Homo sapiens: one gene and its partners. The protein of the gene in region 6 interacts with the protein of the main gene of each other region in a biochemical or structural test. Each region holds a gene or a part of one and is shown on either strand. Other genes may lie near its edges.

The links.
Region 1: the proteins of CASK (region 6) and ZSCAN30 interact in a test that uses a peptide from one of them, tested with the Homo sapiens proteins (one large-scale study listed by IntAct).
Region 2: the proteins of CASK (region 6) and RSRC2 interact in a test that uses a peptide from one of them, tested with the Homo sapiens proteins (one large-scale study listed by IntAct).
Region 3: the proteins of CASK (region 6) and SORCS3 interact in a test that uses a peptide from one of them, tested with the Homo sapiens proteins (one large-scale study listed by IntAct).
Region 4: the proteins of CASK (region 6) and RRBP1 interact in a test that uses a peptide from one of them, tested with the Homo sapiens proteins (one large-scale study listed by IntAct).
Region 5: the proteins of CASK (region 6) and CTNNA1 interact in a test that uses a peptide from one of them, tested with the Homo sapiens proteins (one large-scale study listed by IntAct).
Region 7: the proteins of CASK (region 6) and ADGRA3 interact in a test that uses a peptide from one of them, tested with the Homo sapiens proteins (one large-scale study listed by IntAct).

The regions. Positions count from the first base shown.
Region 1 is NC_000018.10:35,255,730-35,259,229, reverse strand, and holds part of ZSCAN30 (zinc finger and SCAN domain-containing protein 30), read left to right. Parts: exon of another isoform or gene 1-1,291; coding exon of another isoform or gene 1,292-1,302; intron 1,303-3,500. UniProt on the Homo sapiens protein: May be involved in transcriptional regulation.
Region 2 is NC_000012.12:122,502,954-122,506,445, forward strand, and holds the end of RSRC2 (arginine/serine-rich coiled-coil protein 2), read right to left. Parts: intron 2,754-3,492; coding exon 2,574-2,753; 3' UTR 501-2,573; downstream 1-500.
Region 3 is NC_000010.11:104,644,290-104,647,789, forward strand, and holds part of SORCS3 (VPS10 domain-containing receptor SorCS3 precursor), read left to right. Parts: intron 1-3,500. UniProt on the Homo sapiens protein: Plays an important role in modulating synaptic transmission and plasticity in the hippocampus, probably by affecting the trafficking and localization ofAMPA-type glutamate receptors in the postsynaptic density.
Region 4 is NC_000020.11:17,613,179-17,616,242, reverse strand, and holds the end of RRBP1 (ribosome-binding protein 1), read left to right. Parts: intron 1-233; coding exon 234-317; intron 318-713; coding exon 714-812; intron 813-1,362; coding exon 1,363-1,506; intron 1,507-2,022; coding exon 2,023-2,061; 3' UTR 2,062-2,564; downstream 2,565-3,064. UniProt on the Homo sapiens protein: Acts as a ribosome receptor and mediates interaction between the ribosome and the endoplasmic reticulum membrane.
Region 5 is NC_000005.10:138,780,925-138,784,424, reverse strand, and holds part of CTNNA1 (catenin alpha-1), read right to left. Parts: intron 2,503-3,500; 5' UTR 2,501-2,502; coding exon 2,396-2,500; intron 1,249-2,395; coding exon 1,053-1,248; intron 1-1,052. UniProt on the Homo sapiens protein: Associates with the cytoplasmic domain of a variety of cadherins. The association of catenins to cadherins produces a complex which is linked to the actin filament network, and which seems to be of primary importance for cadherins cell-adhesion properties.
Region 6 is NC_000023.11:41,532,055-41,535,554, forward strand, and holds part of CASK (peripheral plasma membrane protein CASK), read right to left. Parts: intron 2,920-3,500; coding exon 2,839-2,919; intron 2,733-2,838; coding exon 2,652-2,732; intron 1-2,651. UniProt on the Homo sapiens protein: Multidomain scaffolding Mg(2+)-independent protein kinase that catalyzes the phosphotransfer from ATP to proteins such as NRXN1, and plays a role in synaptic transmembrane protein anchoring and ion channel trafficking.
Region 7 is NC_000004.12:22,387,067-22,390,566, reverse strand, and holds the end of ADGRA3 (adhesion G protein-coupled receptor A3 precursor), read left to right. Parts: intron 1-1,383; coding exon 1,384-1,479; intron 1,480-1,619; coding exon 1,620-2,862; 3' UTR 2,863-3,191; downstream 3,192-3,500. UniProt on the Homo sapiens protein: Orphan receptor that may have a role in planar cell polarity pathway.

The DNA of each region.
Region 1 (3,500 bases), on a different chromosome or scaffold from region 6:
ACAGAGTGAGACTATCTCAACAACAACAAGAAAAGAAGGTGGCCATCATCTGCAAGCCAAGGAGAGAGAAGAAACCAAACCTGCTGACACATTGATCTTGGACTTCTAGTCTCTAGAATTGTGAGAAAAGAGATTTCTGTTGTTTACCACCCATTCTGTGGTATTTTGTTGTGGAAACCCTAGTAAACATACTATATTAAAATTCTTCCTTATGTCCATATGAAATACTCCCAACTTTAATTTATTCATAATCCACTTTCTTTAGTTTACAGAGTCCTCATAAAACACAATCTATACTTGAATGCAGTGAGTACACTGCACTTTGACCTTTTTTTTTTTTTTTTTTTTTTTTTTTTTTTTGAGATGGAGTCTGGCTCTGTCGCCCAAGCTAGAGTGCAGTGGTGTGATCTTGGCTCACTACAACCTCCAACTCCTGGGTTCAAGTGATTCTCCTGCCTCAGCCTCCCGAGTAGCTGGGACTACAGGCACCCGCCACCACGCCTGGCTAATTTTTGTATTTTTAGTAGAGATGGGGTTTCACCATATTGGCCAGGCTGTTCTCAAACTCCTGACCTTGTTATCCACCCGCCTCGGCCTCCCAAAGTGCTGGAATTACAGGCATGAGCCACCGTGCCCAGCCTCCTGACCTTGTTTTAACTAAGCCTCTCACTCCCTCTGATCCCATCTGTGTTCTGTCTGTTTGGATATCTTGCCACTTTTCTCTGGACATGCTTCAGTTTCTCCACATTCATCTGAAGTTTGGGGATCAAGACAAAATAAAATACTCTAATGAGAATCTGATTGATTTAAAATATATTCACCCTCCAACTGTTATCTGTTACATTTTTTAACTTTTTATTTTCTTATTACTTCATAGTGGCAGTATGTTGTTGACTCAGTCACCATATCAGTAATAGTGACTCTATCTCTCCAATGTCCTTGGACTTAGCAAAATTTACTCGTTCTCCATTTATGCGTGGTCCCATGGCCATGAATGGCCTTGACTGGGTTCCTGTTAAGTCTCCTTATGCTAGTCTCTTTTCAGTCTTGAAAGTCTTAGCCCTGCCTCTGAAGAATTAATGTGGATCCTTTCACAGCTTTCACCTAGGTCATGAGGTTTAAATTGTTGGAGAGGCCCACTGTGATATGATTGTAAGAGTCACCATGCCATTTTTACAACCTTGAGTTATAAGTTTCTTGTAGGTGCTTCACTAGCCTCATGATATGCCTTGCCAGAAGTAGCGCCTGAGATGGAGATTTGGGTGCAGGTGATTTATTGACGATGTGTTCTTCAGGAAAAATCTGTAATGGAGAGAGAGAAGCAGGATTAGGAAGGGAAAAGAGCAAGCAATGATGTGGTCTCAGTTACAGTCTAGGCTTGGTCTAATCCTTGGAGCATTTCATGGGCCGCTGAAGCATAATTGCACTGCAGAGTTGTCTCTTCTTGACGCAGAGATGGGGCAATGAAGGTGGAAGTTACTTCCTGGGCCAAGTGGCTCTCATCAGCCTGGGTAATTCTCCACAGAAGGAGGCATCTCTGTATAGTTAGGAGCTGTCTTAATCGGTTAGGACTGCTATAACAAAATACCATCAACTGAGTGGCTTGTAAACAACACGGATTTACTTCTCACAGTTCTGGAGGCTGAGAAGTTCAAGGTGCTAGCAGATTTTGTATTTGGTAAGGTCCCACTTTCTCATGGATGGCACCTTTTCACTGTGTCCTCACGTGGTGGAAGGGGCAAATGAGCACCATAGGGCCTATTTTATAAGATCACTAAGCCCTCATGACCTAGTCACCTTCCAAAGGTCCGCACTTCCTAATACCATCACCTTGGGGGTTAGGACTTCAACATATGAATTTTGGGGAGACACAGACATTCACATCATTGGAGGAGCCAACATTCACAGTGGCTGAGGGAAGGAGGCATCATATTGGTAAAGGGGAACTGGGTGGGCAGTGGAGCATCACTGACATAGCATTAAGGCTAAAAGCATACTCGTCAATATGCAATTGAAGGCCACATCCCTAGTTAAAAGGATTTTAAACTAAACAGGATGGAATTGCTCACTGAACTGCTGAGCTGGCAGAACTCACTGAGGAGCCACCCCAGAGAACAAGTAAGAAAAGCAGGAGGTGTGTTAAAGAGAAAAGCTAGCTGGGTGTGGTGGCTCGTGCCTGTAGTTCCATCACTTTGGGAGGCTGAGGCAGGAGGATTGCTTGAGACCAGGAGTTCAAGACCAGTCTGGGCAACATGGCAAGACCCCGTGTCTACAAAAAAAATTTTTTAATTAACTGGATGCAATGATGCGCACCTGTACTCTTAGTTACTGGGGAGACTGAGGTGGGAGGATCCCTTGAGTCCAGGATTTCAAGGCTGCAGTGGCTGATAATTGTACCACTGAACTCCAGCCTGAGTGACAGAGCAAGACTCTGTTTCAAAAACAAACAAACAACAACAACAACAACAAAAACAGAAGAGCTCTTCTAACAGAGATACCTGTGCCTTATTTCTCCTCCAAAGAGCCTCTTATAAATCTGTACCCCACCCTCCAGCCTCCAGACTTGAGCCTGATTACAAATTAGTTTTCATTCTTGGGAGATAGTAATTGGGTTCTCTCTATGCAAGTATTTCTGAATAATCAAGTGACCATTTCTTATTGTAATCTTTTTTTTTTTCTTTTTGAGACAGTCTTGTTCTGTCATGCAGTGGTGTGATCTTGGTTCACTGCAACCTCCACGTCCCTGGTTCAAGTGATTCTCGTGCCTCATCCTCCCGAGTAGCTGGTATTACAGGCGTGCACCACCATGCCTGGCTAATTTTTTATACTTTTAGTAGAGATGGGGTTTTGCCATGTTGGCCAAGTTGGTTTTGAACTCCCCTGGCCTCAAGCGATCTGCCTGCCTCAGCCTCCAAAAGTGCTGGGATTACAGGTGTGAGCCACCGTGCCCAGTCTCTACTTGTAATCTCTATTTGTCTTTTCTAAGAATTACTCTAGTTAGCTATTTATTCCAACTTTTTAAATATAATAATAAATGTATAGTTGAACAAATAAAAATCTTGATGTCTTCCTGATGTATACATCTGAGGACAAAATTTTTCTCTAGTCTCATAATTTGACTTCATATAGTTACAGAATTTGAAGACGTATTTAAATCCCATAAGTTACATTGCTTTTCTAATTTTCATTGCCCTTAATTTTGTCCCTACACAATTATATTGCCACTTTATACCCTATAATTGATGCTCTTAATAATTTGACCTATTTATTACTTTCAGAAAATTTCTCATTAGGTTGTTGGGTCTCTGACTTTAACCTATTTGGTACTTTTAATTTTTATGCCTCTATTGTATGCAAGTATATTTTTCATAAATGTTTTCTTTTTGAATGAAACAATGAATAATTTAAATTTCTATCTAAAATCCAAGGACAATATGAATTTTAGAGGTGATGTCATCTGTGTTTAATTTCTGGTAAGGAATGGGGAAAACGGGAAGCCA
Region 2 (3,492 bases), on a different chromosome or scaffold from region 6:
CGAAAAATACAAAAATTAGCCGGGCGTGGTGGCGGGTGCCTGTAATTCCAATTACTCAGGAGGCTGAGGCAGGAAAATTGCTTGAACCCAGGAGACAAAGGTTGCAGTGAGCTAGGATCATGCAACTGCACTCCAGCCTGGGCAAAAGAGTCTCTCACAAAAAAAAAAAAAAGAAAAAAAGAAAAAAAAATTCTGCATGTAAGTGGACCCTAAAGTTCAAACCCATGTGTTCAAGGGACAACTGTAATTTCATCTTTTAATTATTTGCATTTGGCTACTCAAAAAAGAAATTGAAATAAAATACTTAGGCCAGGCACTGTGGCTTCACACCTGAATCCCAGGTAGCACTTTGGGAGGCTGAGATGATGCAGATCATTTGAGGCCAAGAGTGGGAGACCAGCCTGGCCAACAGCCTGAGAACCCCATCTCAGGTACATTGTCATGGGCCTTTGGTGCCAGCTACTCAGGGGAGTGAGGTGGGAAGATCACTTGGACCAATATACATATACACACATATTTTATTGGACAGTGCTGCTCTAGATGAGCAAAGTACAGGCTGTATCACTCATCATGTATGGTCAGCTCCTAAAATAACTGTAGACACACAGGAAGCTTTTGCGTCCACACTGCCTTAGAAGGTCATGAACATTTTTAATAAGATTGATTTAAAAAGGCAGAGCTTAATTGAAAAATGTTGATGATCACGAAATGAAGGATCCATAGTGTCATTTCCTTAGAAGGCTTAGATTTGTCACTGAAACACGGTGAAAAGCCATTTTGCCATAGAATTTCTGTGCTCTGGGAAAATGAAAGGTTTATTAAAGTACATTAAAAATCTTACAATCTGGCTAGGTGAAGTGGATCACACCTGTAACCCCATCACTTTGGGAGCCCTGAGGTGGGAGGATTGCTTGAGGCCAGGAATTCAAGACCAACCTGGGCAACGTAACAAGACCTTGTCTTTATAAAAAATTAAAAACAAGCTAGGTGTGTTGGTGAGCACCTGTGGTCCCAGGTACTCAAGAGGCTGAGGTGGGAGGACTGCTTGAGCCTGGGGGAGCCTGCTGCAATGCACTGCACTCCAGCCTAGGACAGAAAGCAAAAAAAAAGAAAACACCCCATTACTTCATTTTCATGTATAAAAAAAATACCTAATGAGCAAGTTGGCAAGACTTAATTCCAGCTTTTAAAATAAGGCTGTCAATCTTATTCCTGTAGTCTTCCCTGATTGTAATGTGCTCTCATTCTGTGATGTTTTCCAAAGGATTTTTCAAAGGAAAGCCAAACCTTATTACTTTGCTGTAACTGAAGTAAATTAACTTCAAGTTTTGCAGGCCCCCCCCACCCCTTGGCTCCAGATTTATGTTCAATCTAGTAACAAAACATTTTCTAGGCTGGCTGCAGTGGCTCACGCCTATAATCCCGGCACTTTGGGAGGCTGAGGAGGGTGGATCACCTGAGGTCAGGAGTTCAGGACCAGCCTGGCCAACATGGTAAAACCCCACCTCTACTAAAAATACAAAAATTAGCTGGGTGCGGTGGTACGCCTGTAATCCCAGTTACATGGGAGGTGGAGGTGGGAGAATTGCTTGAACCTGGGGGGCAGAGGCTCTGGCAGTGAGCCGAGATTGTGCCACTGCACCCAGTTTAGGCAACAGAGCAAGATCCTGTCTCAAAAAAACAAACAAAAAAAATTTCTAATATTTTAATATTTTATAGTCTATGCTGGAGAAGACTTCAAAGGGATAATGAGCAAAAAGCATGCAAAGAACTTGTTATAAGGCACTTTATTAAAATAAAAGTGCTTACATCCCTTTAATGCATTAATCTATCTCCTGAATAACACATGTAATATTTGACAAATACTGAATACCAAGTCTGTCCCTTATAATAGGAAAACATACTATTTTAGTAAGTTTTCTCCTTCCACCTTTTACATTTTTGCTCACCACGGTATTGACTGTAGTATAGTTAACTGGCCTTAAAAAGGGTGGTGGGGAGGGGATTTCTAGCTAGTGTTTTCTAACAGCAATTGCCAAATGCTACAGAAACTATAAAACAAATTCAAAGAAACATCCCAGGTAACTTAAATTAACACCAGTTTTGAGAAAACCATTTTTATTATCATTACCACCCAGCTTATCTGTGCTGGATTATGTACCAAATGGCCAGATCTTCTAAAGAACATCTACATAACATTTCTTTCATGTTTCAAGAGATGAAAATAACTGTACAAGGTTAAGTACAAAAGTACACAAGACAGCGGACACGAAAAAATCCATGTATGAGATTTTATCCCCACCTGCAGCTTTTATATATTTGAAAAGTAGAATTCATGAACTAAAAAATATTATCCTTCTATAGTCCTGTCAAGTTTAATGGAAGTGGGTTTAACCTGATTACAACACTAACACCAGTATCACTGATCTGATATTTACAAAAATTTGTATTTTTCAATAAATTAAAGTCAATGCAACACCCATGCAAGCTAGAGTGCTAGCTGTTTGGTGAACAAGGACGTGACATCAGAACAAGAAGTCTATAAGTCCCAAACTTTACAAGTGTGATCATTTTCAAACTGCATCCATTCCTCGCATTGAAGATGTGAAACCCAAACCCATTCCTCTTTGTGTGTGGGTTTGTGATCTTGCCATTTCATACTGAGCATCTAAATTTCGAAATACTTCTTCCTGCTGCTTCAGAGTCTTGTAACTTTCTTCATCAACTGAGCTACATCCAGCTTCATCTTCACTCTAAAAATCAGACATAAAACATTACAATGAATTCAGATGGAGATAAATATTCTCTCACTTGACACTATTTTTTATGTATTTTTTTTTTTTGAGATGGAGTCTTGCTCTGTTGTCCCGTCTGGAGTGCAGTGGTGCCATCTCGGCTCACTGCAACCTCTGCCTCCTGGGTTTAAGTAATTCTTATGCCTCAGCCTCCCAAATAGCTGGGATTAGAGGCACATGCCACCACGCCCAGCTAATTTTTGTATTTTCAGTAGAGACGGGGTTTCACCACATTGGTCAGGCTGGTCTCGAACTCCTGACCTCAGGGATCCCCCCTGCCGCCTGCCCCCCGGCCTCCCGAAGTGTTGGGATTACAGGTGTGAACTAGGCTGACACTATTAAATTATACTTTTGGCCGGGTGCAGTGTGGCTCACGCCTGTAATCCCAGCACTTTGGGAGGCTGAGACGGGTGGATCACCTGAGGTCAGGATTTCGAGACTAGCCTGGCCAACATGGTGAAACCCCGTCTATACTAAAAACAAAAAACAAACAAACAAAAATATACTTTTGGGATATGTATTTGATCTCAATAACTTAATTTCCATTCATTATTGAACACCTCCAAAGGACAAGGCAATGTTCTTTCTAGGTCTGGAATATAGCAGGGTGTAACAAAAGTTAACTTCAGTTTAGTAGGTTGGAAAAAACATAATATGTAGAAGATGTCAGGGTATAAATGCCACAGAGGAAAGTAAA
Region 3 (3,500 bases), on a different chromosome or scaffold from region 6:
ATAACTGCCTCTTTAGCCCCTAGGCTGGACCTGTCTCTTCTGACCACATTTTGTAGGCAATACGAGAGAGAGATCCTTGATTATCAGGTCTGTGAGCCTGTGTAAAGAAGATGGAGAAGCATACTCACATGGCCCTGTCTTTGAGACTTTAAGGAAATCTCCTGGAGAGTCACTGGGAAACCAGTTTCAGCAACATTGACCCAGCTGGTTTTTCTCCTGTCCCCCTTTCCTGATGGCAGGAAAAGAAGGTGTTGTAAATAAAAGCCAGGGTGAAGAGTGATGGGGATGAGGACACTTTGGGAAGATTCCTTCATCATTGGTTTCAAAGTGGAGGGAGATGTCCGTAAAACAGAGAACATGGGGCCTAGCTCCAGGCTCTTATGACGTGGAAAGAGAATTTTATCTTTTATTCTGGCTTCTGGAGTATTAGACATGTCCTTATTCAGGAGGCCACCAGTTTAATTTTTAACACAATGAGGGTTTCCTTGCTCTTCTTCCAAGTGTCTCTGATGCACCTGATTGCTTGATATGAGTTCCCTTTTGGGGAGCGTTTTCAGTAACCCTATGAAATTGAAAATTGAACTCCATTCTGACTGAGTTTACAGTCAGGGATGCAGGGTGGGACATGAAGGAGAAGGGCCTTCAGCCCACCCCATTGGTCCAGTGTGTGCCCCAGGTGGTTGAGGGTGCAGGAGGAGACCCTTGACCAAGGCTTGGGCTGGGTATTTGCCTTGGTCCCAGGACTGAGAAGAGATGGCTTTGGGGACAAAGGAGAAGGAGTGCAACTGGCTTTGGGCAAAGGAATCAGGAGGGCATGGGATCTGGGTACCACCTCTTGACCATGTTGCCTGCCAGGTGCTCTGGCTGGAAAGTGAGTGGACTTGGCCTTGGACCCTTTACTCTGGAGGAGCGATTTGCTATTTTTTCTCTCCAGTTGCCTCCAGCTGGAATCCTGGTGATTAATGGGTTAGAGAGTGTTTCAAAAACACCCAGAGGGAGCCCAGTCCCCGTGGCTTACAGGGAAACAGAAAAACACATTATTCTGTCCTTTTCCTTCAAATGAAAGAAGAAGCCTCCCTGCTTGCTCAGTGAGTTGGCAAATGGCTCTGGAGAGTGGAAAGTTGTGAAGGCACAGTCCACTTCTCCACACCCCCTCCTTCTTGGATTAACCCTTCATGGGGCCCCCATTCCTGGTGCCAAGGTGAAAACACTGCATCTGCCCTCACATTGGTCTTCATTTCCTTCCAGCAGCGCACTCGAAGTGGCAGCGATTTGCAGGCTGCTGCCCCTGCAGTGTATCTGCTTGGAATACTTGCCAGGTAGTTCTCAATTAATGGGCCCAACACTGCATCTTGGTGAAGAGAAATGGGGAGATGCTGATATTTCTAGGCCCTCCCAGATCACCCTGCCCTGAGCGTACTAGTAGGTGTAACACAGATTCTCCCAGGCAGGATTTCCTACCCTTAACTAATTCAGCTGGACTGTGTTCTAAAATATTTACTCCTAATGTGCAAAATAGTGACAGATTTGATCAGATTAATTGTATTTCACTCACTGGATCATCTAATTGTGGCTCCCAAACAGATTTTTCAAATAGCTTTTGGCTGGATTGCTTGTCTTCATCCTCCCTGCTCACAGTTCCTGTGTCACAATATCTTAATGCATTCTGCCTTTTTGGAGGCTTAATAAAGAAGCTTGCCACAGAAGCCATTCTTCAGGGTTTTGCCAAAAAAATTGTTTTCAATTAGTATTACAAGGGGAAACCATCTCAGTTGAGATGTAGCTGGGAAATGCATGGGGACATAACGGTACTAATTGCTCCTGGTCATTGTTGGTCTGAGGGGCCGTAGGGAGAGGAGGAGCTGGGCACAGCCTATTTATCTGCTCAGTGATTTCTCTGATGGCTGGATTACAGGATGTGATTTCCTTCTCAGATCCTTCAGTGATTTCCAAGGTGAGCAGAAGTTGCAGATTCCTTAATTGGGAGGCCTGATTTAATGATTACAGAAATGCAGTGGCTGGAACTTGCTTTGTAGCTGGCAAAGAAGGAATGCCCGGGAGTGGCTTCTCCAGTGGTGTTGGATTTAAGGGAAAGGGAGGGTGACTTCAGTGGCAGGAAGGCTCAGTGGACAGAAGGGAAAATTGCTTTTTCTTTGGGCTGTGTAAATCTATTGTCAGTGAAGGAATCCTGGAACTGGATGATCTGTGGGCCCTGAATCATCTCATAAGGAGCAGAGAGGTGCAACAAAGCAGACACTCTGTGATAGAAAGATTTGGCTGGAGACTAGTGGTTTATCCAAGGCTAGGTATAGATTGGCTAAGTCACTTAAGGCCTGTGGCTTGACCTACCTGTTGATTTCCCGCTTTCTGCCTTCTTTTGGCCTCTTGGCTGGTTTGAGACACTTCCCTTACAGGGAGAAAATGTCAAAGGAGGATTCTGCAGTAAGTTTGAAGGAGAAAAGAGGCCTTGTGGAGGAGGAGGTGGGAGATATAGAATGTGAGTGCCTAGTGGGTCACTAGGCAGTTCTGGTAAGCAGAACTGGCTCTGTGGGATGGATCGAATTTGGCTAACCAAGTTTATTCTCCTGGTGTTGTGGGTAACTGAGAAAAGGCTCTGGATAGGGCTCTGACTTTGTTGGTAGTCAGTGGAGATGAGGGAGCTTTGCCTTACACATGGTTGGCACTTGATAATGTTTGACTGAGTGAATGAAAGACAGTCTCAAGTCTCATCAAGCAGAGGCTATAAAGGAATTAGAAATTGTTGTTGCCTGGGATAGCAATGATTTCAGAACTTGACAGCTACCATAGCCAGGAGTGTTTCATCCAGTGTGTCTACATTCTGGCTTGAGGAACTTCGGTTTCTTAAATTCAGATCCAGAGTCCATTAGCCTGGCATTCAAGGCTATGTATGTCCCGGGTCTACTTCTCCAACTTTGGATTTGACTCTTCCCTGATTGACTCCTGCATTCTGGCCAGGGCAGCGTCTTCATTGTCCCAAGCATCTTGAGGTCTGTTCCACTTGGGGTACCCTTCTTTCTTGATGAAAGGGCACCTGTTATTCATAGCTCAGTTCAACATTCAGACTCAGTGGCTCTGTGAAACTTTCCTTAGAAGCATTTATTTCTCTTTTCCCCTACTTGTTTATAGAATTTGCAGAGTGCACCACACATTTTGTCATATTTAGTTTAGTACTTACTTTAGTCTTATATTATTTGGTGAGTGATTTGAGGGTAAGAGCTGAAATAATTAAAACAGCACCCCTTCCCTCCAATCACCATCAAGTGCGAGTTCTGTTCTTCTCATCCGTGCCTGGCAGCATGTGCCGTAGGGTAGTACATAGCTCAGTAATACTGAACTCACCTGGGGAGTTGGACTGTGCCTTAGCTGCAGGGTAAGAGGAGAGGAAAGAAGATCATTTTGCCCTAAGATAACTAACAGGTTAACACTGTCTCTTAATAACACTGAGTTTAGACAACTGGTGTATTATTTCATGTATGAAT
Region 4 (3,064 bases), on a different chromosome or scaffold from region 6:
TGTCCTGTGAGTCTCGTTAAAGGCCCCTGAGGTTGCAGAGGCCCCATCAGCTGCTCCTGAGCCACACCGAAGTCTGTACCAGGGGCTGAGGTGCCCTCTCCCCAACGAGGGGAGCGTTGGGGCAGGGAAAGGGGAAGCTAGAAGCAGCTAGAGAGCGGTGCCTGTGCTGGATCCCTGGGCCCCTGGAGGGTTCCTCACCGGGCTGCCGGGTTATGTTTGCGGTGTTTGCACAGCTGAAGACGCAGCTGGAGTGGACAGAAGCCATCCTGGAGGATGAGCAGACACAGCGGCAGAAGCTCACGGCCGAGTTTGAGGAGGTCAGGCCCTGCCTGGTGGCTCTCAGCCCCCATCAGCCCCTGGGCCCTGAGTCTCCAGGGAATGAGTGGGTCAGCCCTGCCCCGCTCGGCTGTGCCCAGCAGCACCTGGGCTGGGCCTGGGCCTTCTGGGCAGCAGTGGGTGGGGCCCGGGCAGGTGGAGCACAGGCTGGAGGCACCTTGGGAGCCCTGTGGGTGGTCTGCATCCCTGAGGAGCCTTGAGGGCCTGGGGCTGGGTCAGAACTTGTGGGTCTGGCCCACTCATTCCAGCTACAGGATGGAGCTGTTGCTCCATCAGGCTGGGGGGGCCCCCTGGTCCCCAGGCGTGCTCGGTAGGGTCTTGACAGCACAGCCGTTTATAAGACGTCTCACCCAGACCTCACTTCCCTCTCCGGCAAGGCTCAGACCTCGGCATGTCGGTTACAAGAAGAATTGGAGAAGCTCCGCACAGCCGGCCCCCTAGAGTCTTCAGAAACAGAGGAGGCCTCACAGCTGAAGGCAGGCAGGGGCTGGGGCGGGGGTCACACCTGGAGGGTCTGCTCTGGGGCTGGCGCCACTCTTGGCCTCGGAAAGGGGCCAGGAAGGGGAGAGCCGACCCCACCGGGACCTGCCCTTGGCACTGGTTCCCCTTGTCACTACCCGGGGCTGGGGTGGGGACTCCTAGCCCTGCAGTGTCACATGGTCACATGGCAGCCATTAGTCCTGGTGGCTGTCGAAATGTGAAGCATGTAGAACGTGAAGTGCGTTCCTCAGCCACACGTCCAGCGCTCAGTAGTCAGGTGTGTCTCCTGTGCTGCCTTGGACAGTGCGGAGTAAACTGCTCCTGCCCCAGGAAGTTCTGGTGGTGCTGAGAGCACAGGACCCAGCCCTCACGGTCAGCATGGGCGGTTTCCTCCCTGTCGTCACCACCTATCTCCGGGTGACCAGGAGTTGCCTTCCTTGTGTCCCCAGAGGGCTCCAGCCCCTGGCGTCAGGGTCCTGTGGGCATAGCTGGGGTGGCCCTCCTGCCGGTGCAAGGGCTGATGCCCGTCAACCTTCTGACCATCAGGAGAGACTAGAAAAAGAGAAGAAGTTAACAAGTGACCTGGGGCGCGCCGCCACGAGACTGCAGGAGCTTCTGAAGACGACCCAGGAGCAGCTGGCAAGGGAGAAGGACACGGTGAAGAAGCTGCAGGAACAGCTGGAAAAGGCAGTGCGTGCCTGGCGCCAAAGCAGGGCGGGAGGAGTCGAGCTGCCGGGAGCCCCGGGGAGGCAGGACCGGGAGAGGCAGAGCTGGGCGGAGTCGTCAAGCTGCTGGGAGCGCTGGGCTGGGAGCCCCAGGGGAGGCAGAGCTGGGCGGAGGTAGTGGGGACAGAGACTTCCTAACGAGGGCTTCAGCCCACCCGGCCCACCACCCACCCTTCTGGGGTTCCCTTGCTGGGAAGCGAGTGTCTGATCCCCCTGCTGGCCCAGGTCCTCACTTTGCACCTGTGTGGGCCCCTTAGCCAGTGCTCCAGCCCCTGCCCTGCAGGATGATGGTTTCCCCTCAGCTCCCACCAAGTCCTCCCTGTCCCCCAGCCCCAGGGGTCTGTGGCTCCTGTTCTCTGAGGGACTGGAGTGGCTTGAGGGGGTCAATCCAGGGAGGGACTAAAGGCCCAGGGTAGAGGGCAGGTGGTTCTGCCATGGCTCGTGGCCCAGCCCCCCTCACGCCACCTGCCTTCGTTCACAGGAGGACGGCAGCAGCTCAAAGGAGGGCACCTCTGTCTGAGTTTCCTCTTTGGAAAAAGAAGTTACTGTTCAACTTACCAAAATGCCTTACACATTCCTTACAAATAAACCAACCAACCTACACAGCGTTATCCAGGCCCAACTTCCGGTAGCTCCGAGAGAAGCCATGAGAGACAAGTCTCTTAGAGCCACAGAAGTAGACCTTCCAGAGCCCCAGTTTGTAAATGAACCTGTGTCACATTTGATAAACACTATCCTGGGCGCAGCCCCGGGCCACCGCCGAGTGACGCCAAAGCCCTGGTTGACTCTGACAGCCCCGTGGGTGTGTGGGAGGCCGGGCGCTCTGGGGTCTGTCTGTCAGTGCAATCGTTTAGTGTTTTTTCAGTGGGGCGGGGCGGGAAGCGGGTGGGACCGGGCAGCCAGTTCTCAAAGGCTGTGGGGCCGACTGGAGGCCACAGCCCCTCACCCCTAGACGTTGCCAACCAGAACTGACGTGTGACCTCCTGGGTGTTGATGCCATTAAAACCAACGTTGGTGCCCGGTGCTGCGGTCTCGTCTGGTCTTCTGCTGGGGCTCCCCCACCCGCTGTTGGGCCCAAGATGAAGAACCAAGGGGTGGGGGCGCACTCGGGAAGAGAGTAAGCGTGGGCCTCAGCTGCTTTGAAGGCAGAGGCTCTGCAGCTCCGCGTAGCGTGGGGTGGGGCTGAGACTCGCTGCTTCCGGGGCCCCCAGCAGTTTTCCTTGTCACCTCCCAGACCTCAGTGCCCTCCGGGCAGGATAAGGGAGCAGGGCCTGCGACACCTGAGAGCCAGATACATTTACTGCTGCCCCGCATCCCGGAGGGGCTGAGGTTTGTGAGCGCGGCTGGTGGCCCGGGCTGTTGCGTGATGGAGGTCCGGGAATGAACAAGGGGTCTCTGTCCTGGCTGGGGCTTAGACACCCACACCCCAGGAGGGTGGGCCAGGGCTGGAGCAGCCCACTGCCTGCCCTCGGGAGGTGGAGTTTCACCTGCAGAAACCAGCTTAGGTTTGCCACGACCCTCAG
Region 5 (3,500 bases), on a different chromosome or scaffold from region 6:
TATGGGTACTGCCACAGGGATGAATTTGACATAAGACTCTGGACTATGCAATCTACCATCAGGCACGAAAGATCTATGAAGTTCTCCCAAGGGTTAGTAAAGCACCTGTAAATAGCAGGGCTCGATTTACCTTAGCTGATATCCAATAACCTAAAAAACCTACATCATTGTTGAAATTCTCCGACTGGAAAAGAAACCTAACACACAACTACAGGTTTCAAGGCCGGGCACTGTGGCTCATGCCTGCAATCCCAGCACTCTGGCAGGCCGAGGCAGGCGGATTGTTTGAGCTTGGGAGTTTGAGACCAGCCTGGGCAACTAGTGAAACCCCATCTCTACTAAAAATAAAAACTGCAGGTTTCAAGAAGTTTATCTTCCGTATTTAAAGTCTTCCTTCCACATTTGTAACATAATAAGGACAATTTTTCTAGCATTAATTATTAGTAAACTGTGGATTACCATTTTACTTTTTATCAATTCTGAATTTCCCAAAACATGATTCCTTTATACCCAGATTTATGTCAAGCTCCAACCAGTTCAAATATGCATGGCTGATTTAACATACTATTCTGACACAATAGGACAATTTCTAGAGTATTTTCAGAGTAGGTAGATATTTTTCCATTTTATCACACCCATCTCTTCAGCATGAACTAAAAAGAAGTATTACACAGGATGAAAAGTAAACTTCGGTCCCATTTCTTTCCTATCAATTTGTGTTACAACATTTCTAAGACTTAACTATTACTTGAAATACCCAAGAGAAGTGGATTCAGATTCTCCAGATGTCCCTCTGCAAGCATCTCTCATGATTAAAATGAGCCAGTCCAACTTAATACATCTCCAATAACTAAGTTACTGAGCAACTGGCAAGCATAAGAATGAGAATTAAAATATGAGCCAGTCCAACTTAATACATCTCCAATAACTAAGTAAGTTACTGAGCAATTGGCAAGCATAAGAATGAGAATACTGACCACAAAAAAAATCTTCAAACACTGATTTTCTAGAAAGGCCTGCCTCTCTTTACCTAAAAAGCAGTAATGACCTACCTTGTTTTCGAACATCTTCTACAGCAGCCACAAGCTCCTCCTTGAGAAACTGGCTCTCCTTCGCAATTTTATCCCCCTTCTCCAAGAAATTCTCAGTTGCTTGTTCAACAGATGCAGCCAAAACATGGGCCTTCTTAGAACGACCTCTCTTCTTATTAGAGGGCCCTTTACTATTGGTGTTTACAAGGGTTGTAACCTAAAAGTTTCATTTTTAACATTAAACTGGAGTCAATTAAAATGACAAACTAATATCTTTAAAGACAGCAAGATTAAGTTATTCTTTTAAAAAATCACATGAGATTCCACTGAACATTAACATACAATTCCCCATATTTAAGATATACAGCAATGATGCTATATTTAATTTCCAAAATAATTCAGCTTTCTTAATGTGTACAGAGAATTATTTAACACATATTTTAATTTCTCAAATATGATCATTAGGTTTTTAGTTTGATTTTACAAATTAAAAAATGATTAGAGACAAGTTAGATGTCTCTACTATATGTCACCAAGATGTTCCAGAAAGAGGTTAACAATGAACTTAGCTTTATCTGGAGATCACACTGCCACTGTTTTCAAACTTTGCAAAACATTTTAAGATAATTTGCTTCTGAAGTCTTTTGACAGTTTATTCACACAAATCTCAGCAATTAGTAAAGGTCCCAATAAACGAATGATTGCCCAAAGAAGCCTACAGTGATGACGCTTTATGTCTTAGAACATTACCATCATTAATACACATAATACCAGATTATCTCTAGGTTAAAGATGATGAATATATGTTATAGTGTAAATTTGCCAAACAAGACTCATTTTCTCTCTCTCTCTCTGAATCTCTCACATACAAACAATAGACATACTATTGTAAAACACTAAAAGTACACAGCTAGTTGCTAACAGTTTATGAACTACCCTAACATTGTGACATTTGTAGCATACCAAACCTAAACCCTCAAGTTGAATTACCTGCTAATTAATCCCACACAATGAAAGGTGTGTTAAGCAGAGTGAGAGACCTTAACAATCAAGGATCCAGACTCCACCTTTCTTGGGTTTCCCCTCTGAAGAAAGGTGAAGTATCTGCAAAGCACAAACATTTGCAAAGTTGCACTACATACCATGGACCCGTTACTAGCAATAAGACTGAAGAAAACGACAGCAGCAGCGTTCTCAAGGGTTAACTAAACCCATGCATCAATATTCAAATCATCTAAGAACTGTCACCTAAACTCAAGTACTGGAATTAAGGCTTTGAACTAAATAACCTTGCTCTTATGGTTGTTACCCAGGCCTGTGCTATAGAACCATGTTACAATGTATTTGTGTTTTCAGATTCTTACCTGTGTAACAAGAGGCTCCAACAGTCTCTCAACTGCCAGAGTCCTGATCTCTAGACTTTTAGGATCCCACTTGAAGTTTATGTTGCCTGCATGGACAGCAGTCATTTCTAAATAAGAAACAAAAAGTCAGTCAGGCAAACATCAAACACAAACATGAAATATGTAACAAATCTTCTCCTACTTTGGGACTTTTGCATCAGGAAAGCTATATTCACTATAGATGAAAAAATTCTAACTAGCCTACACATGAAGACCCAGTAAACCTTACAACCTCTTAATATTTAATGATTTCAGGCTTACAAATAGGAGGGGTACTACAAGAGGGCATTCCCAAACACACAGAATGTTTCCCTTTGGGCTTCTCTAGCACCAAGACTTCCTACCTCAGTTCCTACTCACTTTATCTGCCCCACCTTTAGAAACAAGATGAAAAGCTAAAGTGAATGAAAGCTACTTTCTTTTTTTTTTTTTTTTTGAGACAGAGTCTTGCTCTTTCGCCCAGGCTGGAGGGCAGTGGTGGATCTCAGCTCACTGCAAGCTCCGCCTCCTGGGTTCACGCCATTCTCTGGCCTCAGCCTCCCAAGTGGCTGTGACTACAGGGGCCCGCCACCACGCCCGGCTAATTTTTTTGCATTTTTAGTAGAGACGGGGTTTCACCGTGTTAGCCAGGATATGATGGTCTCGATCTCCTGACCTCATGATCCACCTGCCTCGGCCTCCCAAAGTGCTGGGATTATAGGCGTGAGCCACCGCACCCGGCCAAAAGCTACTTTCAAAGACACTGCTTCAAAAACGAATACAGAAGATCCTGATTTTTCCTACTCCACAACATTCATGGTACAGTAGTATCTAAAAGGTATGCTTCACTTCATTTTTTGATGGATTCCTAGAGAAGGACTTGTCTTATTCTATTAAAACATAATGTTTAAATCAGCTGCCCTCTGCACCCACAGCTATTATCACTCATAGCCAGAAGAAATTTCAAATCACACTTAGTCAAATATCACTGTATCAGTGTCAAGAGAAACTTCTGTCAGACAGCGGCTTTAAGAATAGGGAGAAAACATCAACGAAAATAACAGTTAGTCTTTTCTTCTAAAAGTAG
Region 6 (3,500 bases):
CCTCCTGAGCAGCTGGGATTATAGGCGTGTACCACCATGCCCAGCTATTTTTTGTATTTCCAACAGAGACGGGGTTTCACCATGTTGGCCAGACTGGTCTCAAACTCCTGACCTCAGGTGATCTGCCCGCCTCAGTCTCCCAAAGTGCTGGGATTACAGGTGTGAGCCACTGCACCTGGCCACCTACTGTCTGTTTTTGTAAACAAAGTTTTACTGGAACACAGCCATGTGCTTTTGTTTACATATTGCCTATGGTTGTTTTCATGAGACAACAGCAGAGCTAAGTGCTTGTGATAGACTGTATGGCCTTAAAGCCTCAAATGTGTACTATCTGGTCCTTTACAGAAAAGGCTTGCCCACCCCTCACCTAAGTGAGTGTAACTGAAGTATATGCCAATAAGCTCTAGTTCTGTGGATACTAATAGGACCAGTATCCTGCAAAACACACTTTAGGAAATGTTTTTCTAGATGAGCCAGGAACACTGGTTTTAATATTCTCTCTCCCTACCCCCCTTTCTTTTCTCCCTTCCTTCCCTTTTTTTCCCTCTCTCTCTCAATTTCTTTGCTTCCTTCTTTCTTTGAGAAAGAACAAATTTATGCTACTCTCTTCTGTATACATGAGCCTAAACTAATGGGGAATCCCCCTTTCCTGCTAGCCTGTTTGTTAGAACATAAAGTGCTCGTGGTCATCAAAATGTGGACATTTTAAGAGAAGCCCTTTCTCTAGGCACATCAAAAGCTGAAGAACCGGCGTTACTATTTATTTATTTATTGAGACAGGGTCTCACTCTGTTGCCCAGGCTGGAGTGCAGTAGCAAGATCTCAGCTCACTGCAACTTCCAGCTCCCGGGTTCCAAGCGATTTTCATGCCTCAGCCACCCTAATAGCTGGGACTACAGGTGTGTGCCACCATGCCCGGCTAACTTTTGTATTTTTAGTAGAGATGGGGTTTCACCACATTGGCCAGGCTGGTCTCAAACTCCTGGTCTCATGTGATCCACCCATCTCGGCCTCCCAAAGTGCTGGGATTATAGGTGTGAGCCACCGCGCCCAGCCAAGAACTTACATAACATATTGATGTTGTACTATCTTCAGTCATCTCAGTAGTTAGATATATGTTATATACACATACAGGGTCAAATATTTCAAAGACTAGTCATGATTGACATCATCAAAGGTAAGTTTTAAAACCAAACTAGTTAACTGGCCATTTAATAACATGGAAGTTCAGTTGTTACGTGGTTAAGAAGAAGCTAAATGTTAGCTAAGCTTGCTGTACTCATGATCTAGACATAAGGAGAATTAAAAGAACACTTCAAAGTGTTTTACTAGAAAACCCCAGTAGTGCCAAATGAGACACTATTGGATACATTTCTTTTCTTGTGTAAATCAGACAAGGTTTTGGGATGAAGGTTTTCTCATGAAGCCTCCTGGCTCTCTGAGGTGTACAGATAACTGTAAGTGGTATTGACATTGCTTCAGGAAGGCATGTGAAGGCCCTATAGAATGGAGCCAATCTTCACATTTTCTCCTGTTGCTCTTAAAAAATAATTTTCCTTTAGCTCTTCCAACCCTGAGCTGCTAGAAAGCTTCTGGGGTTAAAATTTTATTTATTTTTTTTTGAGACGGAGTTTCACTCTTGTTGCCCAGGCTGGAGTGCAATGGCACGATCTCGGCTCACCACAACCTCCACCTCCGGATTCAACTGATTCTCCTGCTTCAGCCTGCTGAGTAGCTGGGATTACAGGCATGCACCACTATGCCTAGCTAATTTTGTATTTTTAGTAGAGACGGGGTTTCTCCATGTTGGTCAGGCTGGTCTCAAACTCCCGACCTCAGGTGATTCGCCCACCTCAGCCTCCCAAAGTGCTGGAATTACAGGCATGAGCCACCGCGCCTGGCCTAAAATTTTAAACTTTAGAATAATGATGATAATAATGAAATGATAGTGGTAGATAGCTTCTACTTATCCACCATCTGCTAAGTGCTTCATACACATGATCTCAAATCCTCTCTGCAATCCTGAATTACTTCATTTTACAATTGAGAAAATGAAGAGGGCAAGAGGTTAAGAATAAGATACGGAAAATAAGGAGAATTAAAAATCTTACAGATTTGAAAATCTTTACAGAAACAACTGTTAGCATATTGATTGGGTTTAAAAAGTGGTAAGAAATCAACAATTTAAATATTAACTAAGGGAAAAAAATTGTCATATCAGAAACTGTACAACTATGAAAACTTATTTTTCTGAAGAATAATTCATCTAGGTAATGTGTATGACATATTGTTAGAAAAATTGTTACAAACAGAATGGATAAAACTAATTTTATTTAAAACACACACACACACACACACACACACACACACACACACACACTTTATACACATATCTGTACTAAGACAAGCCTAGAAGGGTATACAACAGAGAAGCCTAGAAGGGTATACAACAAAATATTTATAGCACTTATTATAGGGAAAGAGGGGTTGGGATTACTGTTAACTCATTTTCCTCCTTGTTCTTTTTTTGATTTTACAAATTTCCTACAATGAACAGTTATACCTTATGTAATCAGAAAAAAATACATAAATTATAGAGTTAAAAAAGTGATAGGAAAAATATAATGAAAAGAGATTGAGACATTGCTTACGTGGAATAGGGTACGCAAACCGGTCTGGGTGCTTTGTGATGAGAGTGTTTTTTATGTGTCTTCTCCCAACACCATGTGCGCCTATGTCATTTAGAAAAAAAGAATGTTAAAACTGACAACTCTTAATAATGTTCACAAAATGTTTTGAAAGTGAGAATAAGCAACTCACTTACACAATCAAACTTACCTAATAAGACTAGTGTTTTCCTCTTGAATGCTGGCAGTTTTACTACTTCTTCATATGTGACAAGATCTAATTGATCAAACACTAAAACGCAAAGATTTAGAAGAAAGGTAAATTTGTAGAATGACTATTTCATGTACATAAATTATAATTTTACTGGCAAAACTACAGTTATATTAAAACCATGTCTTAAAAATATGAATCCAACTTATGATATATGGCTTACATGTAATTTAAGTCATATAGCATCTAGGGAGAAATTTTCATTTTTAAGCCCATGAAAATGCTCTTTAGAACCAGGGGCATCCAAAGATGCTGAACACATGCATTAAAATGTCCAAATCTAAAAGATACTACATATCTTTTCATGTAGTATCCAACAAATCATATGAATTAATTTGAAACCACATGCTGTTCATATTTTTCCAATTCTAAGAAGTCAGCAATACTAAAAAGAAAAAGTCTACAGACAGTGACCAACATGAATATAGCATGAATGCAACTAAAGTTAACCAGGAGAGGGGCCAGCTAGATCATTTCTAGAGATGGATGAGAAATGCATGGACAGCTGGTCTTTAACTTCATGGTTCTTTCTTTCAACAGAGTTGATGAAGGTGGCATGCTAGATTCTAAGGCAAGTTCTGTAACTATTGCACAAGCTTATC
Region 7 (3,500 bases), on a different chromosome or scaffold from region 6:
GGTGATAAAGGCGAGAAAGTGGTGGTACCAGCGTTGGCAGAAGGAAGAGAGAAAAGAAGTGGTAGTTCAAGGAAAGTTTTAGAAGATGGGGAAACTTGAATATATATATAATACGTATTTTATATATATATATAATACGTATTATATATATATAATACGTATTTTATATATATATATAATACGTATTATATATATATAATACGTATTATATATATATAATATGTATTTTATATATATATATATATAAGCAGTAGAGAAGCATGCTAGAAATAAGCAATAGAGAAGATTTTAAAGATGCAAAATAGGGTTATTTGATAACAAGAACGGGGGTAGGGGGCGTTGAAAGAAGACAGAGAGGGTGATAGGACCCAAGATTAATTTTGGAAATAATACTTTCTTTTCAGGTAAGAAGCAGATGTGAATTAGTACAGCAGGAAGAAGGGGAAGGTCACGTATTATTGGCATCTCTCTAATCTGTGGAATAGAAGGCAGAATTATAGTTTTATAGGGTAATTAGTTTTCAGCAGTACTAACATCATGTTAAAGGATTTTAGTAACTAGGTACAAGGAAGAAACAATATATGGACAAATGTATCAGAGATATTGCCTTTATCCACCCAGTGCAAGATTTGGGGCCATGTCTCAGGAAGGAGCAAACGCAAAATTAAGATTCTGACTTACCCAGAATGGAAATTTATTTTCAGAGAGATCAAGGAGCTCAGAGATGAGCACAGAGTTTTTCTTTGTAGGACCAGTCACTGCTCTGTTTCAATCAGTTTTTATTGCACCATCATTTCCCTTGCTGTCCCCACCTCTCTTTGGAAAAGGGGTCAGGTAGGGCCTCTGCACTCTGTGAAGCTGCTGGGATCCAGATACCTTCCTTACCTTAATCTCAGTGGACTGGCGATGAGATACACAGCAGTGGGCAGTCCTGGGACATGCAGGTTGAGCTGAACATTAGTCAGTAATTAATATGTCATTACATTTCTTGTGTGAACTAAGGCACTTTTCAGTTCACCGGCTGAATCTAAAAGAAGCCAGTTCCTGCTACAAAAAAAAAAAAAAGTAAGAGTAAGTAAGCTGAAATCCTACCAGCAGGCTCAGAGTGTTACTTTGCCTGTCCACAAGGTGGCAGAAGCCGATCAGCTTTCCTCTACTCAGAAACTTACTAGACCTTGTGCTTTAAAACAAGAAATCTAAAAAACAAAATAAAAACACATTACTGCTAATAAATCAGCCTCCCAACTTAACTCTCAGCTTATTATTGGAATAAAGATAATAATTAATCTTCAGGGAATGACTTTTGAAGTACTGAGACATTATGAGAGATACATGTTAAGAAATGGAATGATGAGTGGTTTTTCCTGTGATTCCTCCTTCTAGATTTTACCTGATTGGTGGTGGTATCCCCATCATTGTTTGCGGCATAACTGCAGCAGCGAACATTAAGAATTACGGCAGTCGGCCAAACGCACCCTAGTGAGTATTTTATATTCTCTGTGTACTTGACCCAGTTGTTTCTCTTTTAAGTATTTTCTAGGCATTACAGGTGATTGCAATTTCGTAGATAATTTGTTGAAACATGTAGCATCGATCTGGTTTACCATTTTCTTTTCCAGTTGCTGGATGGCATGGGAACCCTCCTTGGGAGCCTTCTATGGGCCAGCCAGCTTCATCACTTTTGTAAACTGCATGTACTTTCTGAGCATATTTATTCAGTTGAAAAGACACCCTGAGCGCAAATATGAGCTTAAGGAGCCCACGGAGGAGCAACAGAGATTGGCAGCCAATGAAAATGGCGAAATAAATCATCAGGATTCAATGTCTTTGTCTCTGATTTCTACATCAGCCTTGGAAAATGAGCACACTTTTCATTCTCAGCTCTTGGGGGCCAGCCTTACTTTGCTCTTATATGTTGCACTGTGGATGTTTGGGGCTTTGGCTGTTTCTTTGTATTACCCTTTGGACTTGGTTTTTAGCTTCGTTTTTGGAGCCACAAGTTTAAGCTTCAGTGCGTTCTTCGTGGTCCACCATTGTGTTAATAGGGAGGATGTTAGACTTGCGTGGATCATGACTTGCTGCCCAGGACGGAGCTCGTATTCAGTGCAAGTCAACGTCCAGCCCCCCAACTCTAATGGGACGAATGGAGAGGCACCCAAATGCCCCAATAGCAGTGCGGAGTCTTCATGCACAAACAAAAGTGCTTCAAGCTTCAAAAATTCCTCCCAGGGCTGCAAATTAACAAACTTGCAGGCGGCTGCAGCTCAGTGCCATGCCAATTCTTTACCTTTGAACTCCACCCCTCAGCTTGATAATAGTCTGACAGAACATTCAATGGACAATGATATTAAAATGCACGTGGCGCCTTTAGAAGTTCAGTTTCGAACAAATGTGCACTCAAGCCGCCACCATAAAAACAGAAGTAAAGGACACCGGGCAAGCCGACTCACAGTCCTGAGAGAATATGCCTACGATGTCCCAACGAGCGTGGAAGGAAGCGTGCAGAACGGCTTACCTAAAAGCCGGCTGGGCAATAACGAAGGACACTCGAGGAGCCGAAGAGCTTATTTAGCCTACAGAGAGAGACAGTACAACCCACCCCAGCAAGACAGCAGCGATGCTTGTAGCACACTTCCCAAAAGTAGCAGAAATTTTGAAAAGCCAGTTTCAACCACTAGTAAAAAAGATGCGTTAAGGAAGCCAGCTGTGGTTGAACTTGAAAATCAGCAAAAATCTTATGGCCTCAACTTGGCCATTCAGAATGGACCAATTAAAAGCAATGGGCAGGAGGGACCCTTGCTCGGTACCGATAGCACTGGCAATGTTAGGACTGGATTATGGAAACACGAAACTACTGTGTAACATTGCTGGGCTTCCTAGGCAGAAATTCATATAAACTGTGATACTCACATTCCTTGAAGCTATGAGCATTTAAAAACTGTTTACAGCCACCATAGGGATTCAAAAGAATTTGGAATAAACTTTGAAGTTTTGGATTTTACTTATTTTTATCCCCAAATTGTTGCTATTTTTTAGGATCTGAAACAAAATCTTTCTAAAACATTGTTTTAGTTGTCAAAGCACCAACAGGACATTTTGGGATGTGAAATGTAATTTCTTGGAATCTGTAATTTGTACTTAATATTTCAGGCTTGTATTTAATATAATAAATAGGTGTTTGTTATTGTGTCGATCTGTTATTTTTATATTTTACAATATAAGCATTTAGTTCTATTTTAATGAAATTAGTGGTTTGGGGTATTTTAATTAGAGTTACACATAAGTCAGTTATATATATATATTGCATGGTTAAGTGTATTGATTTTGGCACATAAATCAAAGTGATTTTTGGGTTGCTGTATTTTATAAGTCTAGTTTTAAATATTACCAGGTTTTAAAAGGATCTCTCAGGATGTTTTTTGAAAATGGAAATGCCTAAAAAACTTCCTACGTTGCCTTACTTTTGCGTTATTCCTTGGATCCTATTAATACTATTTTCA